Regions from separate parts of the Homo sapiens genome. Here all the other regions are linked to region 1. The links come from fine-mapping of genetic effects on gene expression. A gene starts in region 1. Each other region holds a variant in brackets. All regions are shown on one strand. Distances are from middle to middle.

Evidence for each region.
Region 2: its variant is fine-mapped to the expression of TRERF1 in whole blood (TOPMed, PIP above 0.99).
Region 3: its variant is fine-mapped to the expression of TRERF1 in whole blood (TOPMed, PIP above 0.99).
Region 4: its variant is fine-mapped to the expression of TRERF1 in thyroid (GTEx, PIP above 0.99).

Annotation. Positions count from the first base shown.
Region 1 is chr6:42,449,606-42,454,751 of GRCh38, forward strand. It overlaps TRERF1 (transcriptional regulating factor 1), which reads right to left and starts at 2,321. Exons shown (of 18, transcript NM_001395490.1): 1 at 2,069-2,321; 2 at 1,572-1,656. It overlaps LOC124900214 (arf-GAP with GTPase, ANK repeat and PH domain-containing protein 2-like), which reads left to right and starts at 2,755. Exons shown (of 4, transcript XM_047419627.1): 1 at 2,755-4,677. The coding sequence starts at 3,216. The coding sequence ends at 4,313. It overlaps LOC107986596 (a long non-coding RNA gene), which reads left to right and starts at 2,755. Exons shown (of 5, transcript NR_171668.1): 1 at 2,755-3,020; 2 at 4,612-4,677. RefSeq lists silencers at 2,786-2,865, 3,336-3,775.
Region 2 is chr6:42,371,646-42,376,791 of GRCh38, forward strand. The region is part of intron 2 of TRERF1 (transcriptional regulating factor 1); the gene reads right to left. Among named protein-coding and RNA genes, the nearest start is that of TRERF1, 78 kb to the right of the region's middle. The variant C/T (reference allele first, on the strand shown) is at 2,154.
Region 3 is chr6:42,314,083-42,319,228 of GRCh38, forward strand. The region is part of intron 3 of TRERF1 (transcriptional regulating factor 1); the gene reads right to left. Among named protein-coding and RNA genes, the nearest start is that of MRPS10, 99 kb to the left of the region's middle. RefSeq lists enhancers at 1,182-1,849, 1,918-1,977, 2,568-2,657. The variant C/T (reference allele first, on the strand shown) is at 3,039.
Region 4 is chr6:42,361,962-42,367,107 of GRCh38, forward strand. TRERF1 (transcriptional regulating factor 1) reads right to left here. Exons shown (of 18, transcript NM_001395490.1): 3 at 1,036-1,118. Among named protein-coding and RNA genes, the nearest start is that of TRERF1, 87 kb to the right of the region's middle. The variant A/G (reference allele first, on the strand shown) is at 2,118.

The DNA.
Region 1 (5,146 bases):
AACATACATAAAGATTTTGTTTACCCTCCCAGCAAATACAACAACCAGACTCAGATTTTCATCAGGTAAAAATAATAGCTAATTTGCTTAACTAATGCCTAGTTAGGAACATTTGATAAGCAGCAATAATATTTAATTCCCAACTAACTCAACTCTCAAACTGCCAAATATCAACCCTCAATCTGGAAATCTGACGACAGTTAGGAAAGAAAAAAAGCACTCTCCATCAGCAATGTGTAGCGAGTTTTTTAAAACCCATTTTTCTCGACCCTGCTAGAACAGAGCCTGTCTACAGAATTGCAGAAAGCTTAACCAACCTCAGTTAACCCCACTGCCTAGTGGCTACTCCCTAACCCTACTAAACGTCTCCGGGTTGGACCCGAGATGCTAAAATTATCCTAGCAAAGTTAAAACTCCCAGCATCATCAAGGTAGCTGACAGCTAAGACCTACAACTCTTCTGCAGAAACCAGTAGGCTGAGGACCAAGAAAACAGAGGCAAGGAGAGGCAAAGGCTGCTGGTTAACTAGTTAAGCACTGAGGACTCCTGCTGTTATCCTCTCCAGTCAGTGAGCATCAACACCACACTTCCTATCGCCAAACTCCTTTCTTAAAAGGGTCAGTGATGCAGAAGGTGGGTGCTAACTGGGACAACTTAAAACTCCCCTTCTTAAAACTCTCCTCAATGACCTGCTGAAAAGTGCACCTGGACCGGTTTTCAGGAGATATTTTTTAATGAACTCTTTAGCCACTACAGGGGCGGTCATTCCTAAGCACGACTTCCACGCACTCACAAGACAGCCCAGGCCATGCTGAATTGAAGCCATCCCCTTCAGTACTGGCACTTGCCAAAGCTGCGTCTAGTCTGGGGAAGAGTTTCCACAAAGCTGGCTCTAACAGGCCGGTAGAAGACACACGGAGGAACCAGAAAGCGTTTTCTTGTAACCTAAGGATGGCAGGCGCACATGCTCCAGTCCAGTGCTGGCCAGAGGCTGCCTGCCAGGTGCTCTCGGCCTCCGCTGGTGAAGGAGTGGTTTGGTTGGTTTTTAATATCTGTTTCTTAAGACCACCGGCAGTAACTTCCCAGTCTCCCAAACTGAAGTTGGGGAGTGAAGGAACAGGTTTACCCCCTTACACATTTCTCCCATCTGGGTGGCCACACTAACTTCTGGGGAGTACCCAGCCCCCACAGAGCCCGCAGGCGCGTATACATACACATATGTATCATGTCAAAAACCCCAAAAGGCAGAGTCCTGCGGTTTCTTAGCTGGAGAATGAAGCCTTTATAACATCACAACCTCAAATGCAAGCCCACCATCACTACCTTTAAGCCAGGGTTGCCAATTATAGCGCCCACCTCATCCCTCCCCCTTTGCTGGGATGCTGTGCAGCCCGGAGAGGGAAGAAGGGAAGAAGGGAGAAGGCCTGCTTGCATAGTGAAAGTAAAGGGGGGGGAGACTTCTCCTTCTGTCTCCCCACTCTTCCCTCCCCACTTCGCCCCACCCCCGTCTTCTCGAGGAGCATCCCCAAACTAATTTTTTAAAAATGAAACTTAATAAGCTTCTTGCCTACCTTGGCTGTTTCTGCAACAAGTGCATGGGCAATCCGACGAGAAGACCAGTATCCGCTTGGGGGGTGAGATGGGGGGCGAGCAGAGCTGATGGAGTAATTTCAATATTAATTTATGTCAGCCGCCTTCTCTCAGCGCTACTCACTTACTGTACTGCCCTCAGCCTGTAAACAAATATCGCTCCGCCAGGAAACATACTCCCCAGATGCAAGCCCCTCTCCCCAGCAGGGAACCTGGCCCCTCGTCCCCCCGACAAGAGTGTGCTCCCCCACCCAGGGTAGGAAGCTTTGGGTTTCCAAAGCACCAACCCACCACCTCCTCCACCACCCCAGCAAGAAACTTACTCGGTCCGTCTACGCCTCCACCCTCCCTTCAGGAAATCTACTCTCCATATGCATTCAGCCTCCCCGCAGGAAATCTGCTCCCCCCTCCCCCCTTCTATATACATGCACCCCTCCCTCTCCTCCTCCCCATGCGCCCTCCCCGGCCAGAAACTTACTAGTGAGCAAGCGTGCAGGCTCTCCTGATGCTGGAAACTTACTCCCAGATATAGCGCCCGCCAGCCCCCTTTCCCAGCCCTGCTCCCCTTCCTGCCCTCCGCCGCAAGCAACTCCAAACTCTCCGCATCCAGCCGTTCTCCCTCCCCAGTGGAAATTTGCAGCGCCGGGCTGCGCGCGTGCATCCACCCTCCCCTTCAGGAAACTTACTCCCCATCTGCATGCACCGCCTCTCAGCCATCGCTTAGAGGGAAGGGGGTGTGCTGGGGAGACAGAAATACATATGTATCTCTCGCCCCTCCCCCGGTCGCAGCCCACTCGGGGCCGAGCCGCGGTAACCTGGCCTTACCTTTGCATTGCTCCCCATCCTCGCCCCCTCCCTTAACCCTCCTTATCCGCTCCCCGGTACCCCCCTTTTTTCACCCATTACCCACCCCTAGCAACCGTTCCCAAGCTCCTCTCGGCCTTTTTTTTTTTTTTAAATCCAGGATGCAAATTCCTCCCTTGTCAGCAAATCGACTGTCAAATTATTTTCTTGCAAAAGGAGAAAGGCGGGGTGGGGGGGGGGAGCAGGAGCAAAAAGAGGGGGAGGGCGGGGGAAGGGAGGGGGAAGGGAGGGAGAGGGACCGAGGAGGGGAGATATCCCTCCGCAGAGCTGGGTCTGGCCGCGGGCGGGGAAGCAGGAAGTAAGGTGTCCAGCGCCGCGACCGGCTGGTCGTCCGCCTCGGCCCCCGCCCGCGTCCCCTTTCCCCCGGGGCGCAGCGCTACGGCGGGCGCGGGCCGCCCGGCGCATTGTTCGCAGCCTTCGCGGCGGTGCGCTGCTGACTTTATTTGTGCGCTTTGCGTGTGCGTGAGGTTGCACCTTTTGTAGGCTGGCGAGTCTCTGGACGAGGATGGGACGGGGGACACGGGCCCAGTTGCGGCCCTGCGCGAGCGGGACCTGTCAGCCCTGAGGTGCAGCGGACCCTCCGGCATGGCCGGAAAATCGAGGCCGGGGAGAAGGCAGCGTGGCCGGGAAGCTGCCGCCTTAAACCCGGACCAGTGCAGGATTGCTTCCTGCGTAGCCGTCCCGGTTATTGTAACACGCTTTGCAAGCTAACGACTGGGGTTTGTGAGGGGGTTTGTTTATTTTTCTAAGTGTTTGCAAAGATGCCGAGGTCGAGGCGGGCTGCGAGGAGACGGTCCGCGCCTACCCCCACCGCACCCTGGCCTCGGTGGGGCTGGGAGAGGGCTGGGGCTCCGGAGAAGGGGCTGGAGGTTCGCGAAGCGCGCGTCTCCATCCCTCCGCCCCGATGGGGGCGGGGAAGGGGTGCAGTAGACCGCGCTGGAAGAGCAGCTCTCTGGGGAGGGGTCTCCCTTGCCGCGGCAGGCGCAGCAGGCCGGGGAGGGGGGTTGCCTAGGAGAGGGGCCGGGCGGCGGAGGGGAGGGGAGGAGAGGGGGCGCGGGTGCAGCCGCCGCGCGCGCTCGCCCCTCCTCGCGCGCCATGACTGTGGAACGTGGTGCCGGGGAGGAGGGACGGCCACCGGGGGCCGCCCGGGGCTGCTCGGCATTGGTGCGGAAACCCGAGCCCGGAGTCGCTCCCTCGCGCTGTCTCCTCCTCCTCCTCTGCGGGGGAAACCGCTGCACCCAAACCGGGAGCAGCTGCGAGCAGGGGGCAGGGCGCGGGCTGAAAGGCGAGCCGAAGGTTCAAACCTCCGCGGCGCGGGCGGGGGCGGAGGGCAACAGCAGGACGGCCCCCAGGTCCCGAGAAGGCGTGGCAGTGGTCGGCCCAGGTGTCAGGGAACCTGGCCTGAGACCCCTGCATTTCCAAGCTTCTTTCCTGGTCAGAGGAAACGTGAACCAAAGGTAGTTCAGCTAAACAGACCACCTCGAGCCGGGTTCGAGGCATCTGTCTCGAGGGCAAGACAGTATTTTTTGCACGACAGAAAGTTACACCATCCATTTTTTTCCGTGGGGGAAATCATTGCGCCCCTTCCCCCAAAATGTCGCGCAAGAAGAATGACCTCCCGCTACCCAGACCTTCGCCAGTGTCCCCCACCCCACCCCCACCCGGGCGCTGGGTGTGGATTGGGCGGAGGGAGGCTATATGGGAGCTTAAAGCATGAGGTCATGAGCGGAGGAGACTGCTGCCAAAAGCACCCGAGGTTTTTGTGTTTTTTGAGGGGTAACGGTTCTCCATCTTCAGCAGTGGAAAGTCCTCCCGCCTACCCTACCAATTCTGGGGCACGTGGACCACAGAGTCCCTGAAAAGAGGAGGGGACCCGGGCTATTTCGCTTAATGAGCGTTTGGCGCGTGCCCAGCCCTTTATGGAGCCCTTCCACATAAGCAAAGAAAGCCGAGGGACAGCGCACAGTGTTGCGGCGACTGGGAAAGGCTTCAGATGCTCGATGTCCCCCGCCCTCTTTCCTCAGTCCTCGGTCATCTTCCAAGTGGGCTGCTTTCTGCGATAGCTTCCTGTCCCCCTCCGACCCATTCCTCCCAAGCGACTAAAACTCCTAATGACATTATTTTAAAGCCTTCAAAACCCTCTTCCATTGCCCTTAGAATAAAGCCAAGTTGTGATTTCGCCTCTACAGACCTCTCTACCCGCCCAGCTCTTCCTCGGATATTGTAAGCCCCGTCAAGCTTTCTTTGTTCAAGGGGTGGAGGAGGGGGCGCCTAACCTTTCCCCTTCCACCTCTTCTTACTAACTCCTGCTGGACCTTCAAGATTTGACTCAACTGTCAGTAACTTCAAGATGCCTTCCTGAGGGTACACCCAGGTCTCTACCTCAGGGGAAAAGACCTACCCTAGGTCTCCTGGCAGCAGCGCTGTGGCCGGAGTTGGCCCCAGTGGCGGCCTTTTTCCAAGCGGAGGAGGAACAGCCAAGCTAAGCTTGACCACCGTCACCGCCCAGGGACCTGAGCGGGAGCTGGCTAGGACAAAACCTCAAAACGGGACTTGGGAAAACCGCACCACCCAGAAAACTCAGCCCCTCCACCTCCCTCCCAGCACACACACACACCCTCTTAATCTAAAACTCCTCCCCGGGGCAGATAAGGAACCTATTCGGAGAGTTAAGTTAATTGCCCCAGGTCAA
Region 2 (5,146 bases), 78 kb before region 1:
ATTGGCATGCTCAACCAGATGCATCTGTGACCTGTGTGAGGCCTTCTGGGGAACCCTACAGAGCTGGACTAGCATTCAGCCCCTGTCCTATAAGAAAGAAGCCATTGGCAATTCTGTCTCCTTAAATGTCCCCCCACATTGTGCTTGTATATGGCAAGCTCATCTGCTCAGGGGGAAATCTTGCCCTGTAGCAGCACTGTTCTGTTTAAGTAGGAGGTATGTGCCTGTTTTCCCTCCCTCAAAATCTCAACTAAGGCTGGGCGCAGTGGCTCATCCCTGTAATCTCAGCATTTTGGGAGGCCAAGGAGGGTGGATCACTTGAGGTCAGGAGTTCGAGATCAGCCTGGCCAACATGGTGAAACCCCGTCTCTACTAAAAATACAAAAATTAGCCGGGCATGGTGGCAGGTGCCTGTAATCCCAGCTACTCAGGAGGCTGAGGCATGAGAATCACTTGAACCCAGAAGCCAGAGGTTGCAGTGAGCCGAGATCAAGCCACTGCACTCCAGCCTGGGTGACAGAGCAAAATTCAGTCTCAAAAAACAAAAACAAAAACAAAAACCCCTCAACTAGACTGTAAGCTCCTACTAGAGTCAGCTCTAGCTTCTGTTCTTCATTTGCCTTAAAGAAAGTCCTCCCTGTTGGCTTTTGTTGAGCTCTTACTAACCAAGTAGAAAGCCAGTTCTCAAACCCATCAGCTCCTACATGAGGCTTCTGTCCAACAGCTACGGCTCTCACTGGGCTACAGGGACAGTTCTTTCCAATGGAGTTCCTTCAGGCCTCAGAGTGGCAATGGCTTCCCCCCACAGGACCATTCCCCTGTGACCACTTAGAGTCCAGTCTCTGGGTGCTGTATCCTCCCAGTCAGTTCCCTTCCCCCTAACTAACTTAAAGTCTCTTCAACTAAACCTTTTGAGTGAAAGAAAACTCACGACCTAGGATTCGCACCTAAGAAAGCTGGATTCTCATTGGAGACTTTGGAGATGCGCACACTCAAAACAGCCAGACAACATCCCAAGGGATGGCAGAGAATCGCCTGCCACTGATGCCTAATAGAGAGATGGAGAGGGATGAGAAGGTCTCAGAGGAAGTGAGATCTGAGTTGGGTCTCAAAAAATGGGTTCAATGGGGTCAACTGGAGAGGAAGTAGGAAGACCATCCCAAGCAGTGGGCCAGCACACACGTGGCACTGACCACAGGGTGGGTGGGGCCCCACTACGGAGGAATGAGACCCTGAGTCAGGCAAAGGGTAAGAGTGTGTGTTCGGGAGTCACGTCAGAATTGGTCTGAGCTCAACTCTACCTCTGGCTAGCTGAGCAACTGGGTAGCTTGCTAACCTCTCTCAGCTCCACATTTTTCCTCAGTAACAGGATGAAGACAAGGATAATCAGGGTACCCATGCTATGGTTGTTGTAAAGATTTAATGAGAGGATGCACATAAAATGCTGTCAATAAATATAATTTGTTATTCTTGCTACAGTCAAAATACCAGTGGCCATCCTGCTGGTGTGGCCGGGGCACTTTCTTCTTTCTAACAGCCACAGTGTTGTGAAGAAGGGAGCACTGGTGGACTGGGCACATCCTGAGTCACCTAAGAAGGGGAAGAGGCTGGGTGCGGTGGCTCACGCCTGTAATCCTAGCACTTTGGGAGGCCCAGGTGGGTGGATCACCTGAGGTGGGGAGTTCAAGACCAGCCTGACCAACATGGAGAAATCCTGTCTCTACTAAAAATACAAAATTAGGCTGGGCACGGTGGCTCACACCTGCAATCCCAGCACTTTGGGAGGCCAAGGCGGGTGGATCATGGGGTCAGGAGATCGAGACCATCCTGGCAAACACAGTGAAACCCCGTCTCTATTAAAAATACAAAAAATTAGCTGGGTGTGGTGGCGGGCACCTGTAGTCCCAGCTACTCGGGAGGCTAAGGCAGGAGAATGTCATGAACCCCAGAGGCGGAGCTTGCAGTGAGCCGAGATGGCGCCACTGCACTCCAGCCTGGGCAACAGAGTGAGACTCCGTCTAAAAAAACAAAAAAAATTAGCCAGGCGTGGTGGCACATGCCTGTAATCCCAGCTACTCAGGGGGCTGAGTCAGGAGAATCGCTTGAACCTGGGAGGCAGAGGTTGCGGTGAGCCAAGATTGCACCATTGCATT[C/T]CAGCCTGGGCAACAAGAGCAAAAAAAAAAAAGAAGAAGAAAGAAAAGAAAAAAGGCCGGGCGTGGTGGCTCACGTCTGTAATCCCAGCACTTTGGGAGGCCAAGGTGGGCAGACCGTGAGGTCAGGAGATTGAGACCATCCTGGCCGACATGGTGAAACCCTGTCTCTACTAAAAATACAAAAATTAGCTGGGCGTGGTGGCACGTGCTTGTAATCCCAGCTACTCAGGAGGCTGAGGCAGGAGAATTGCTTGAACCAGGGAGTCGGAGGTTGCAGTGAGCCGAGATGGCACCATAGCCCTCCAGCCTGGCAACAAAGTGAGACTCTGTCTTTTTTTTAAAAAAAAAAAAAAAGAAGAAGAAGAAGAAGAAGAAGAAGAAGGGGAAGAGCCTGCTAAGCCTTAGAATGCCCAGGCAGCCGGGGGCGGGTGTGTGCAGCTTGCCCCTACACACTCTGTTCTCTGCCCTTCCTGGACCACTGGCTATATCAGCTGGGCTCTCTGGGCTTCCAGCTGGATTTAGTTAAAGTGAGAGCATTTATTCCCCCTTCCTCCTCTTCACCACAGTTTGACAGTGGTTGTGTCTCGTCACCATCACAGCTGTTGTCGAGGCCCTTTCTACCCATCCCTGGGGCTCCTTCCTTCTGGCCGAGGGGAGGTAATAGCTTCCCACTGTTGTCAGCTCTGGGGAGCCTCACCAGCCTTAGATGGTTTCCCTCACCATGCCCACACATCTGTAAATAGTCCTCTCCAGTTAAACCCTCTGTGTGTACCAGTCATTTCCTGCCAGAGCTCTGACTGACAGAGCAAGACCTACATCCACCTACCAGATAGATGGGGCTGAGAGGACAGCCCGGTCCTACCCTCACCCCCTACCATCTCCTCAGAGGTAGAAATGTGAACGGCAGTGTTTAAGACATAAGCACCTGGCCAGGTGTGGTGGCTCACACCTGCAATCCCAGCACTTTGGGAGGCTGACATGGGTGGATTGCCTGAGCTAAGGAGTTCGAGGCCACTCTGGGCAACATGGTAAAACCCTGTCTCTACTAAAAAAATACAAAAAATTAGCCGGGTGTGGTGGCGTGCACCTGTGGTCCCAGCTATTCAGGAGGCTGAAGCATGAGAATTGCTTGAACCTGGGAGATGGAGGTTGTAGTGAGCCAAGGTTGCACCACTCCAGCCTGGGCAACAGAGCAAGATTCTGTCAAAAAAAAAAAAAAAAAAAAAGACATAAGCACCAATGTGTTTTGCCCAAAAGTAATTATACGGGAAATTAACACCCCTGGAAGCTGGAAGAAACCCAGGAAGCTCAGGGTAAAGCGACTGTCCCAGCCCAGGCAGGGCCTTCTGTGTTCTTCCAAGTCCATCACACAATGGGGCGCCAACAAAGTCACAGGCTCTAGATGGGTGCCTGGCATATGGTAGGCACTTCATAAACACCTGTTCATGAAGATGCCTTCTGGCTGAAGATGCAAGCCCGAAATCCAAGAGATCCTGCAGAATTGGATACTCCATGAAAGCCACCGCTCTGTGGAGCAGCTCCGGAGCCACCCTTTGCTCATCATCCCATGCACATGAAGCTCAGAGGAGCCTCTTCTTTATCCACACAAATGCTAGTTCCTCCTCTCTTAGCAAGAAATGCCTGAGGCTGACAGCTGTCTCGTCACCTCTCTTGCTGATTTCGCTGCTCCTCATGCCCTCACAGGGCCAAACACAGCCTTGGTTTTGTGCAGTCCAAAAGCATTTATTAAGTGTCTACTATGTCCAAGCACCATGCCAGGCACTAAAGTTCCAAAGGCGATTAAGACAAAAGTCTCAGGGTCCAGGGACCACGAAGAACATGAAGGAGGAAGGCTACACACTGACTGACTAAAGAGGATTCTCAAAGATGGGTGAAGAAGCCTGAACTAAACTGGTCTTGAAGACTGCGGCTGTGATTACTATGGGGGGCTGTGATCACGATCACTATGGGGAAGGAGAGGGAAGGTGCAGGAGGTGTAAAGAGGGAAGTGGGAGCCTGGAGAACCCCTGGACAAGGGCAAGCAGAAGTGAACTTCACAGGGGCCAGAGCAGATAAGAACCAGGCAAGGGGCTTGTCTCAAATGGGGCCCCCTTGATTCAAAAACCAAGCACATTAAACAGAAGAAATGAAACCCGATTAGAAGCTGTCTCCTCCTGGCAGCCTCACAAGTCACAATGTCCCCCCTTTAGGAAATGTGAAGGCGGTGTGGCTGGGTCTGGGGGAAACTGCTTGTCCTGAAGGGGATGTTTCTCGGCCTACCACTCACCACCAAGCTCCCCAGATGTTGGGGTCAGCCCAATCAGTGTGAAGGGGGCCTGGCCACCCCCAGTTCCAGGGCACTGAGCACTCCCACCCCAAACAAAATAAAAACCTTTCACACATGCTTGCTCTTACTTGGAATTCTAAAATTAAACGTTCATTCCTCTCACCTAAAAGGTTTCTCCTTTTATAAGCTAATATGCAAATGCCTTGGAGAGGCTAAGTCTTAGCAGCCACATATCCGCTTAGCATGAATGCTTCCAGAGGATCGTTCCTGGAAAACAGGCTTTGCGTGAGGGATGTCTGAGAGATGATCTGTGGCTGGGGTAGGGGAGAGACAGGAGTAAGAGGGAGATGCACATGGAAGGCAGAAGGCTGCTCCTGTGCTGAATCAACACCCAGAAGGGCAGAGGGGAGAGGGTTAAATGTTGAAACCTTCATGACTTTTCGTCTAATTCTTTTTTTTTTTTTTTTTTTTTTTTTGAGACAGAGTCTCACTCTGTCGCCAGGCTGGAGTACAGTGGCGTGATCTCAGCTCACTGCAACGTCTGCCTCTCGGGTTCAAGCGATTCTCCTTTCTCAGCCTCCCGAGTAGCTGGGACTACAGGCACATACCACCACGCCCAGCTAATTTTTGTATTTTTAGTAGAGACGGGGTTTCACCATGTTGGCCTGGATGGTCTCAATCTCTTGACCTTATGATTTGCCCACCT
Region 3 (5,146 bases), 140 kb before region 1:
GGAGAGGTGCCATAGTGGTGGTCCTGACCTCTTGTGGCTCATAACTGAAGACAAACTAATTACTTTTAGACAAATGCATGTACATATTAGGAAATGAAAACCTCCACCATGGCATGGTAAGTATAAGCTTCAGCTAAATTCAGAACCCTAGCTGATGCCAGTAAAAAGAACTATTAGCAAATTCACTGCTTTGTGCTTTGTAAACATCTCTATTCACAAGAAAACATGCTTTAGAGTATGAGTCTACCCTGATCGAACTCTTCATCAACATAAATCCCTGGTTTTACAACAAGAAGCCAAGCTCACCCGATGCTTTCAAATGTGCACAGTTAAACTAGGGCAGAGGTCCCAGCAAGCCTTGCAAAATTAAGCTCATGCATCTAAAAAAATACTGGCCGAGTGCCTCAATGCTAGGCATTGTTCTCCGTGACTGGCACGCAACAGTGAACAAAGAAGACAAAACTCCCTGCCCTCATGGAGATTTCATTTTAATAGGGAGAAACAGAAAATAAAAATTATTATAATTAAAGTGTATAGTGTATTAGATGGCTGTAGATGCTATGGGAAAAAACAAAGTAGGAAATAGTCAGGGAAGCCCTCTCTGAGAAGGTGACATCTGAGCAAATGCCTGAAGGAATAAGAACAATGAGATCTGGGGAAAGAGCATTCTAGGAGGAGGAACAGCAAGAGCCCTGTGGTGGGTACATGCCGGATGTGACTGAGGAATTAGAAGGGTGTGGCTGGGACAGTGAAAACCAGGAGGAAAGCAGTAGGAACAAGGTCAGAGATTCTAAACGTGATTTTAAAACAAAACAGAAGTATAAACTTGATGGAGCGAATAGGTTGGTCGCATAGGGTGCTTAGGAAAGGCCAAGGTAAGGAGGTGTCAGTTGAGCTGAGACCTAAATGAGCAAAGCATGAAGATGTGAGGAGAGAACGTTCACAGCAGTGGTGACAGCGAGTGCAGTGGCTCTGGCAGGGATGAGCGTGCATGTGGCAGGTGTGCAGTGGGTGGGATGAGGCAGCGTGGTAGGACGGGGTCTCCATTATGTAGGGTAGTGGTCTCCACCTGGAGTGATTTTGCCTTCCAGAGGACATTTGGCAGTGTCTAGAAACATTTCTGTGTCACGACTAGGGAAGTGCTATTGGCACCTGGTGGGCAGAGATGCTGCTAAACATCTTACAATGTGCAGGACAGTCCCTTTCAAGACAGAATTCACTAGCTCCAAATGTCAATAGCACTAAGGTTGACAAACCCTGGTGCAGGGCCTCACAAGTCACAGTAAGAAGTCTGGGTGCTCACAGAAGCACATGCCAAGGACTTTCTAATGCCTCGTGCCTGCTGGAGTGTGATCCTTACACGTGGCACATCCAGGTCTAGAGTATGGCACATTGGGATGAAAGAGAAGGGCGCTAGGATCGGCGCTTAGAGCACAGAAGCAGGGGTAGAGGCAAAGAGGCTGTGACGAGGTCACCCTAACCTAACTTGGAGCTAAGAGGGAGCTCCTGGAGTAGAGACAAAGGAGGTCAAATGAAGGGGGGCCATCGGGCTGTCTTCTAGCAGCTGATATCCTTCAAGAGACCAGGTGGGGCCCCTGGGTCAGGGTTGGGGAGAGGAACACCACCCCCCCCCCCACCCACTGCCACCCCCTAACGTCATAGTGAAGTGTCTGAGGGCTGGAGAACGCTGCAAGTCTGAGCAGTGTGGAAGGCACAGGTTGGGACCAGTGTGCAGACAGCTCAAGGCTCAAGAAGGACATCACCAGCAGAAACACAGGCAGAGGCTGAAGAGGAGGGACTTGGGTGGGGGTGCTCTCCTTTCAGGGGAGAGGACCCCCACACCTACCCTCACGGTACCTGGAAGATGCACATGAGGACCCAAGGGAGGCCTAAAAAATAAGAGGCTGTTTTGGGATGATCTCAGATTTGGTTCTTCCTGCAGAATGAGTTGTTCTCTGCTCCACTGGGGGTGGGGGCACCTGGACGTCAGGCTGCCTGGCTAATGGGTCTACACAAATGACATTTCGAGTCACAAGTTATTTAATTTCTCCGCCAAAGTCAAGAAAGTCCATGGGTCTGGGGAAGTGGCTGTGATGACCAATGACTCTGGCACGCAGTTAACCCCAAGCATGCACCTCCTCCTCCCCGCATTGCTAATCTTGATGATTCATCCAGAGAGGCTGGTCTGCCTCAGTGGAAAGAAAATCTAGGTGAGGGTCTCATTACTAAGAAATGAGAAAAATGCCTCAATGTAGAGGCAGGTCAGAACCCTTCCTGGTCACTATCCAAAGAAGCTTTTCTAACTTGGGGAGGACAGATGAAGGGGACTGCCTCATAGTGACTTTGTTCTAACAAAATTTTGGATGGCATTTTCAGGTGCCTGCTTATGTGTGCACAAGCAGGCAGACACCTTCATTAATACTCTTGAAACCACCTTTGCAAAGATTATGACAGTGACAGGAGTCTAGCATGGCTGACTCCATCTTGCCTCTAGCCTCACAAGCCAGCTGTCCTCCCTCATTCCTGGGTGTAGACCAAGCTAACCATGGGAGGAATTTAGTTTATTGTTTTAACTTTGAAGCAAGGATGATAACAGTCCCTCCCTGAAACGAACCCCCTCCTTGCTCAGGGACCAAAATCGCCTTTGTCTTGGTAATGAAAGGCCACAAGATTAGGATTATGGGAGGGGCCTGAATTCTGCTAACATGTAGGTGTAGCTAAAGGATAACCAGCCATTCCCCTCCACCGCCCCCAGCTTGCCTTTTTATAATCCCTTGCTACTCATGAGTCATGTGGCCAGAGGTCACAAGATTTGTGACTTCCCCAATTGCTCCTATAGATAACATCACTATTGTAGAACTTAAGATGGGTCTTTTGAGATGCTTTTCAGACTTTTGCATTCTGGCAACCATCTGACTCTACCTGGACCTGGGACTCATGACAACCTGTCCTGTGGCCCCCTAATGTAGAGGCTGACTCAGCACACAAGGACCATTTTCCACACCCCTACGATTTCAACCTTCACCAATCAGCAGCTC[C/T]CATTCCCCTGTCCACAAAATTATCCGTAGAACACCCTAGCCTCTGAGTTCTCTGGGAGACCAATTTGAGTAATAACTCCAGTCTTTCTGCTTGGCTGGCTCTGCCTTAAACTGTTTGTCTACTACAATACTGTGGTCTCAGTGAATTGGTTTTGTCTGTGCAGGAGGAAGGAAGAACCTGTTGGGTAATTATACCCTCACTCAGCACTAATTTCCTCCTCAGTAGTTTTTGTTTGTTTGTTTGTTTGTTTTGAGACAGAGTCTTGCTCTGTTGCCCAGGCTGGAGTGCAGTGGCATGATCATGGCTTGCTGCAGCCTCAACCTCCCAGGCTCAAGCAATCCTCCCACCTCAACCTCTCAAGAAGCTGGGACTACAGGTGCGCACCATTATCCCCGGCTAATTAAAAAATTTTTTATAGAGACAGGGTCTCATTTTGTTGCCCAGGCTGCTCTTGAACTCCTGGGCTCAAGCAAGCCTCCCGCCTTGGCCTCCTAAAGTGCTGGGATTACAAGCGTGAGCTCCCAGACCTCAATAATTTTTAAAATAACAGTCTTCTCCACATCTAAAACATGTTCACTGTAAAAATTTTAGAAAACAGATACAAAATAAAAAGAAGAAAAACTCCATCACTTGTTGAGAATTATTTTTTTTTTTGCTAAACTTTTTAAGATATAGTTGAGATTATATTGTATACATAATTTTGAATCCTGCTTATAAAATAAGCATTTTGTCATGTTGTTAAAAGTTCTAGGCTAGGCACGGTGGCTCACACCTGTAATCCCAGCACTTCAGGAGGCCGAGGCAGGCGGATCACCTGAGGTTAGGAGTTCAAGACCAGCCTGGCCAACATGGCAAAACCCCGTCTCTACTAAAAATACAAAAATTAGCTGGGCGTGGTGGCAGGCGCCTGTAATCCCAGCTACTTGGGAGGCTGAGGCAGGAGAATCGCTTGAACTTGGGAGGTGGAGGTTGTAGTAAGCCGAGATCACCCCACTACACTCTAGTCTGAGTAACAGGGCGAGACTCTGTCTCCAAAAAAAAAAAAAAGCTCTTTGTAAATACTAGTTTTAACCATTGAATAATAATCCACTCTAACGCTACAAGAAATAGAGGTCCATATTCTCCAAGGTCTTATTTCGCTGAATACAAGTAGTTTTAAACCAGCCCCCAACACTGAATACAGGAAATTTCTGAGCACTTAATAATGAGTGCCAGGCACTCTACCCCTACCATGTAGGGTGGCTGTGGGGAGGGCTAACATTGGACTGACATAGACAAAATTTCTTTCTTTTCTACAGTCTTGGGATCTCTACACTTCACTTGGTGGAGGGTCATATTCCACTGTTTTCAGTGAAACAGCCAAGACGAACCCTTCATTCAGTTAAGAGGAAGCTCCAGGCTCTAGTTAGGCACTGGAAGTAAAGGAAATGTGGGTTAGGTCCCAAGAAGCAGAGGTAATGTGGACAACTGAAAGGCTCCAGAATGGATACTCAGGGGCTGGACAACTACAGCCTGAAGGCCAATCCGCTGCCTGTTTATGTAAATAAAGCTTTATTAGAACATAGCCACACCCATTCATTTCAGTATTATCTATGGCTGCTTTCAGCTGCAACAAGCAGAGTTCAGTAGCTGCAATAGAGACCATGGCTGCAAGCCCAAAATATGTAGTACCTGGTCCTTGAAGACAACATTGTTTGATTCCTGTATTGGGAGGCCAACCATCCTCCAAAATAGATGCTCTCCCTTCTTTGGCTAAGAGTCCTCACTTAGAAGTACTCTGAAGTGTGGCCAGCCAGAGACTACATTTCCCATCTCCTCCTGCAGCAAGGTGGAACTCCCTGACCAGTTCTCTCCAATGAAATGTGGGCCAAGTAACTTGTATCGCTTTTGGGCCAAGGTGGTTAAGAAGCAGGTGAGCCTTCTCCATCTTCTGTTTCCCTTCCACCTGAATGAAGAGTCCTCATAGGCCTGTGGCAGTGTTTCTCCACCTTTTCTTCATTGTTGCCCTCCTAAGGGGACTTTTTAGACATTTTTTTTCCCTAATTACTTTCCTCCATGACATTTTCACACCACAGATATACTCTATATCTGTTTATGTACCATGTAG
Region 4 (5,146 bases), 88 kb before region 1:
TTGATTGCATTCCTCTACCAGGGACACCTCTCCAGCTCCTGTTTCCCATCCCGACAGCCAGTCCCTCCCTCTTCCTTCCAGGCACAGTAACAGCTCCCTGACACTGCTGGCCCTGGGTGCTTCAGCATCCCTTCTTGGCTTCTCTTAACTCTGCCTGCATCCTTATAAAGACTCCCTTCAGTAGACGCTCTTCAATTACCCCATTTGCACGAGCCACGTGTTTCCGACTGGAACCCCGAGACACAATGGCTTTAAAATTAAATCAGAATCAGGCACAATAAAAAAGAAACCGAAGCAATCAATTCTGAGCCTCATACAGGAGGAATGGAAAGCGTGGCACATGCCAAGAAAACAAAACCACACACACCGAAATAATCAAATCAGATACCACCCCCCTTCCCCACTGTCGCCAAGAATGTGTGGAGGATGGAGCCATCTCTTGCCGGATCAGGGTTTACACCTGAAATAAAAGCTTAAAATTCTATTTATGCACAAACTACTGACCCTTGAAACAGCTTGTGGGAGGCCCGGCAGAGGAATCATAGCTGTATGCCCATTTTATGGAGGGACAAACTGAGAATGGAAGGGATCATGAGGCCAGACCTGATAAAAACGCGAGGAATGCCCCAGGGCCAGCTAAGGCTCCTGAGTCCAGCAATCCGCCTCTGGCAGGCTCTGTGGAGCTTCCCACAGTGGCCTTCTACACCTCCACTGCATCCCAGACATTTTTAAATCCTTCTAAACACTTCTAGAACTACCATCCATGGACATCCATTGGATCCTCAACTATTTACAACTCTGCAAAATCAAGAGACACCCTCCGCCCCATTCCAGAAGCTGCCAAAAACCATTATGTGAATCCACAATCCCTGACCATTTCCCAGAGAAAATTTTCTAGAAATTAATGGATGTCCAGGCCCAGAGCAGCCCTCCTCCACTTCCTGGGGCATTCTCCACACCATATGGGTCCAAGAAATGGTCTTACGACTGCTTTGCTGTAAAATATTCCAACACCAAGAACTCCCGAGAAGCGACCTGTTTGAGGATGAAGAGGCTGAATCTTTCAGGGTCGTCCTGCTTCTGCGTCTTCTTCCTTCAGCATTCTCCACAGCCAGGGCCTGCAGGAGTGACCCAAAGAGCACAGTCAGGACATCTGGCTTCAGCATGGGAACAGTGAGTATCAATCAGGGAGAGGTCGGAGGAGTGACCTGGGATGGAGCCCTGAAGAACCCAGCAGCTGATGGGCCCACCCAGGACGAGGACCCAGCAAAGGCTGCTGAGGAAGGTCCCGGGGGAGAAGAGGACTTAGGAGACCAAGACGTTCAACTTCATTCTGGTTATTCAGGCTCTAAACCCAAGTCATCATGGCTTTCCTCTTTCCCTCACACCCCACGTCTAATCCATCAGCAAAGGACGCCAGCTTCAACGTAAAGTAATATCCAGACCCTCACCGTTTCTCGACACCTCCACTGGTACCACTTTAGTCCAAGCAAGCAGCATCTCTCATTAGGTTATTGTGATAACCCCCTAATTAGTTGTCCCACTCCTCCCCTCACCTTTCTATAACCATGTCTTGGGGGTTGAACTGTGTCTCCCCAAGATTCCTATGTTGACATCCTGACCCCTAGGATCTCAGAATGTGGCATATTAGGAGACAGGGTCATTGAAGATGTCATATTAGGAAACAGGGTCATTGATGATATAAATAGTTAAGACGAGGTCCTACTGAAGTAGGATGGGGGTTCCTAATCCAAAATGACTCTGGTGTCCTTATAAAAAGGGGATATTTGGAAGATTGGAGGTTTTCTGCCACAAGCCAAGAAGCTACCCAGAGTTGGAAAGGAGCCCGAAACAGACCCTTCCCTGGAGTCTCCAGAGGAGCATGGCCCTGCCAACACCTTGATCTTGGACTTGCAGCCTCCAGAGCTGTGAGACAATAAATCTGTGGTTTAAGCCACCCAGTGTGTGGTACTTGGTTATAGCAGCCCAAGCTAACAAATACAGCATGCTCCCCAGAGCAGCCTAAGTGATCATTTAAAAATCACTCTTCTGCTCAGAACACTCCTGTAGTATTTCATCTGTATCAAAGTAAAAGCCAAAGTCCTTGAAATGGCCAC[A/G]GTCCACATGACTTGGCTGGGCCTCCTCCCTGATGGACTGAGACACCTGACCTCTTCTCCTCCTACTCTGCCCTTCCTCCATTTCCTCCAGCCACAATGGCTTCCTCAAACATCCAGGCAGGCTCCTGCCTCAGCCCTCCATACTTGCTCTTCCCCATCCCTGGAGCACTCTTCCCCCAGGCATCTGTCACTTCCTACAGGTTTCTGCTCTCACGTCCTTTGCAGTGAGGCCCACCTCAAACCCCGGCCCCCTTCCTAGCCTCCTTCCCTGTTGTATTTCTCTTTGCAACCCTTATTACCACCTGACATTTATTATTTTTTTCATCCCCCTTTCCCCACTTCCCTTAGACTGTAAATTCCCTGAGAGCAGGGACATCGTATTATGGTGTGCCCAGAGCCTGGCACATAGTAGGTGCTCAAGAAATAGCTGTTGAAAGACTTTGTATGATGGAATCAAAGAAGCCAAGAGAAAAGAGAGTTGCAAGAAGGAGGAAGCTGTCCAGTGTCAAAAGCAGCAAAGAGCCCAGACAGATAAGGACTGAAGTGTCCGTTGTGTGTGGCAACATGGAAGCCGTGGGTGACCTTAGAGAGGGCAGCCCCTGCAGAAGGCAGGAGGCCTCTGCAGCAAACCCACCGGGTCCCTGCTCTGGACCAGGCATAAGCCCCCACCAGTGGAGGCCAGCCTGCGTGGGCTATGTTAGCGAAGGCAGATTATTTCCACACATCCATCTGTAAGGGGAGGAGAAAAGAGAAGGTAAGGCTGAGGGGTGTGAAGGGCTGAGGAAGTTGCTGCTGCAGGACTGAGGCGTGAGGTCCCAGGGGCCGCAGGAAGCATGGGGATCCCTGTCCAGGGAGAGGGTTCTCTCTGGCCAGGAGGAAGGATGTCTCTTTCTCTGAGTGCAAGGAAACCAGGTGGGAACGAGCCCAGATGCAGGTCAGCACACAGGAGGGCAGGTGGGAACCTGAGTGGGCTCGCCGTGGAGTAATATTTTCAGTGAACACAGAAGCCAGGTTGTCTCCTGAGTGGTGAAGGGCAGACAGGAGAGGAGGCTGGGGTGCACGTCCCACTGTGGGTATCAAGTGCGGGCGTGGCCCTGAAACCCAGCACCTCCTGACGTTTCTGCCCTAGGTGGCTTACTCTCTCACCCTAGTCCACACCCTGACTGGAGACAGCCAGCTGCTGGCCAGTATCCCAGAGGGCCCTGCTCTAGCCAGAGGCCGTGGTTTCGTAGAGGCACAATCTGCATGGATGTGGGGTTTTCTGTGACAGCCCTCAGTAGCCAGGGTTTAGGAGGAGAAGTTCCTAAAGCTGAATTCAAAGGCCCCAAGCAGTTCCATCTCTTTCTGTGAAGGCTTCATCATTCTCCCGGGCTCCCAGACTCAGAACCTCATACTCCACTCCCCTAATCCCTCCCAGTCACAAAACCATGCCTCTTCCCGCATGAGAAGATTCATTATTCCTTGAGCACCTACTAAGTGCTGGGTGTGTTACAAGTTAAAATCCTCAAACAAGAGTCCTGTGAAGTGTTTTTAGCCTCTATCTATAGATGACAAAACAGGTTGAAAGAGATGAAGTAATTTGCTCAAGGGCACACAGGTAGCAAGTGGCAGAGCTAAGATTTGAAACCTTCCACTTCCCTCTCGTCTTTTCTACATACACTACCACCACCCTAGTCCAAGTCCTCAACATTTCATTCCTAACTCTTGACATGATAAATGTCTCCTAAGTTACCTCCCAGCACTGCCCATTTACAGTTCACAAATCGAGACGGATCTTCTTACAGCATTGCATTTACTAATCCCGGCTCCATGCTTTGGCTTTGGAGGCTCCTCAATACAGGAACATTCCAAGCTCCACAGCCATCCCTTGGGATCCTTCATAAATGGTGCACATCTCCTTCTTCAATCTTGTTTCCCATGCGTACCTCTGCTCACCCCATCTGTAATCCCCTGCCCAGTCCATGCACCCCGTCAAGGTCCTAACACCCAGCACATTCCTCCCCTGCAGCTCTGCCCTCTGGCCACCCAGCTCCAGCCCTCTCCTGCAGTCTGCTGGGTGGCACCAACCCAGCTTACCAAGCTCTCCTGGCTCTTCTGAGCTCACTGCATCTAGCTTCTCTGGGCAAGAGCTCCCTGTGCCCATGTGGACTGCCAGCTTCTTGAGGGCAATGAATCGTGTATTGACAATGCTTGCAACTGCCCGCTGCTCAACACAGTGTCTCAGTTATTTGATCCACAGAACAATTCTGATGCTCAGGTGATATGATTCCAGAAGTTTTTCAGAAAATGTAGGAGAACCAAGATGGCCAAGTGAAGAGACACAGGGCCTTCTTGAAGCTGGGAGGCATACCTATTCTTCCTGTGCAGGAGGCACCAGAGTCCGGCACCTCCTAACATCCACTCTAACGGGGAGGAGGATGGCTGGGTTTGGCTCCTCCCTCCTCTTCCTGCACCTGCATATTCAAGGTCTTGGTGTCCTTCCTTTACCACCCTTTCACATGCTTTTGTAGACATAGATAGATATACTCTCTTCTTCCTTCTTCAAGGGAGAGCTTGAAATGTGAGAAATCCAGCTGTGTGGAGAAGCTCATGGTGACTGGCAGAACAGTCAGGACTGGGCAACCAGAAGCAGGAAAAAGAATATTCTATTTTGGGAAATGAGGAGCTGGACTGATCCACTTCGATCACCAGCTATGGACCACCATCTAACAATTCTGGGATTCCCAGAGCCACAAGAGGGAGATGCCTGGGAAAGGTGAAAATCAGCAAAACACTCAAGGGCCATCTGATCACCCCAGGCAGACAGGCAGATCTGGGTAACATGGGGCTGAGAGAAAACCACAGGTTTCAAGGGGATGCTGTCACCAAGATGCCCCATAAGAAATCAGGATCTGCCCAAACCAGGGGCAACCAAAGGGGCATTGTACTCCTCAGGACTTAGCTGAAGTCACAGGAGCACTGGAGTCAGGCCTGCGATCAAATCCTGACCTCGTCAGCCAGGTCAGCCTTCACCTCTTGGAGGCTGGCTC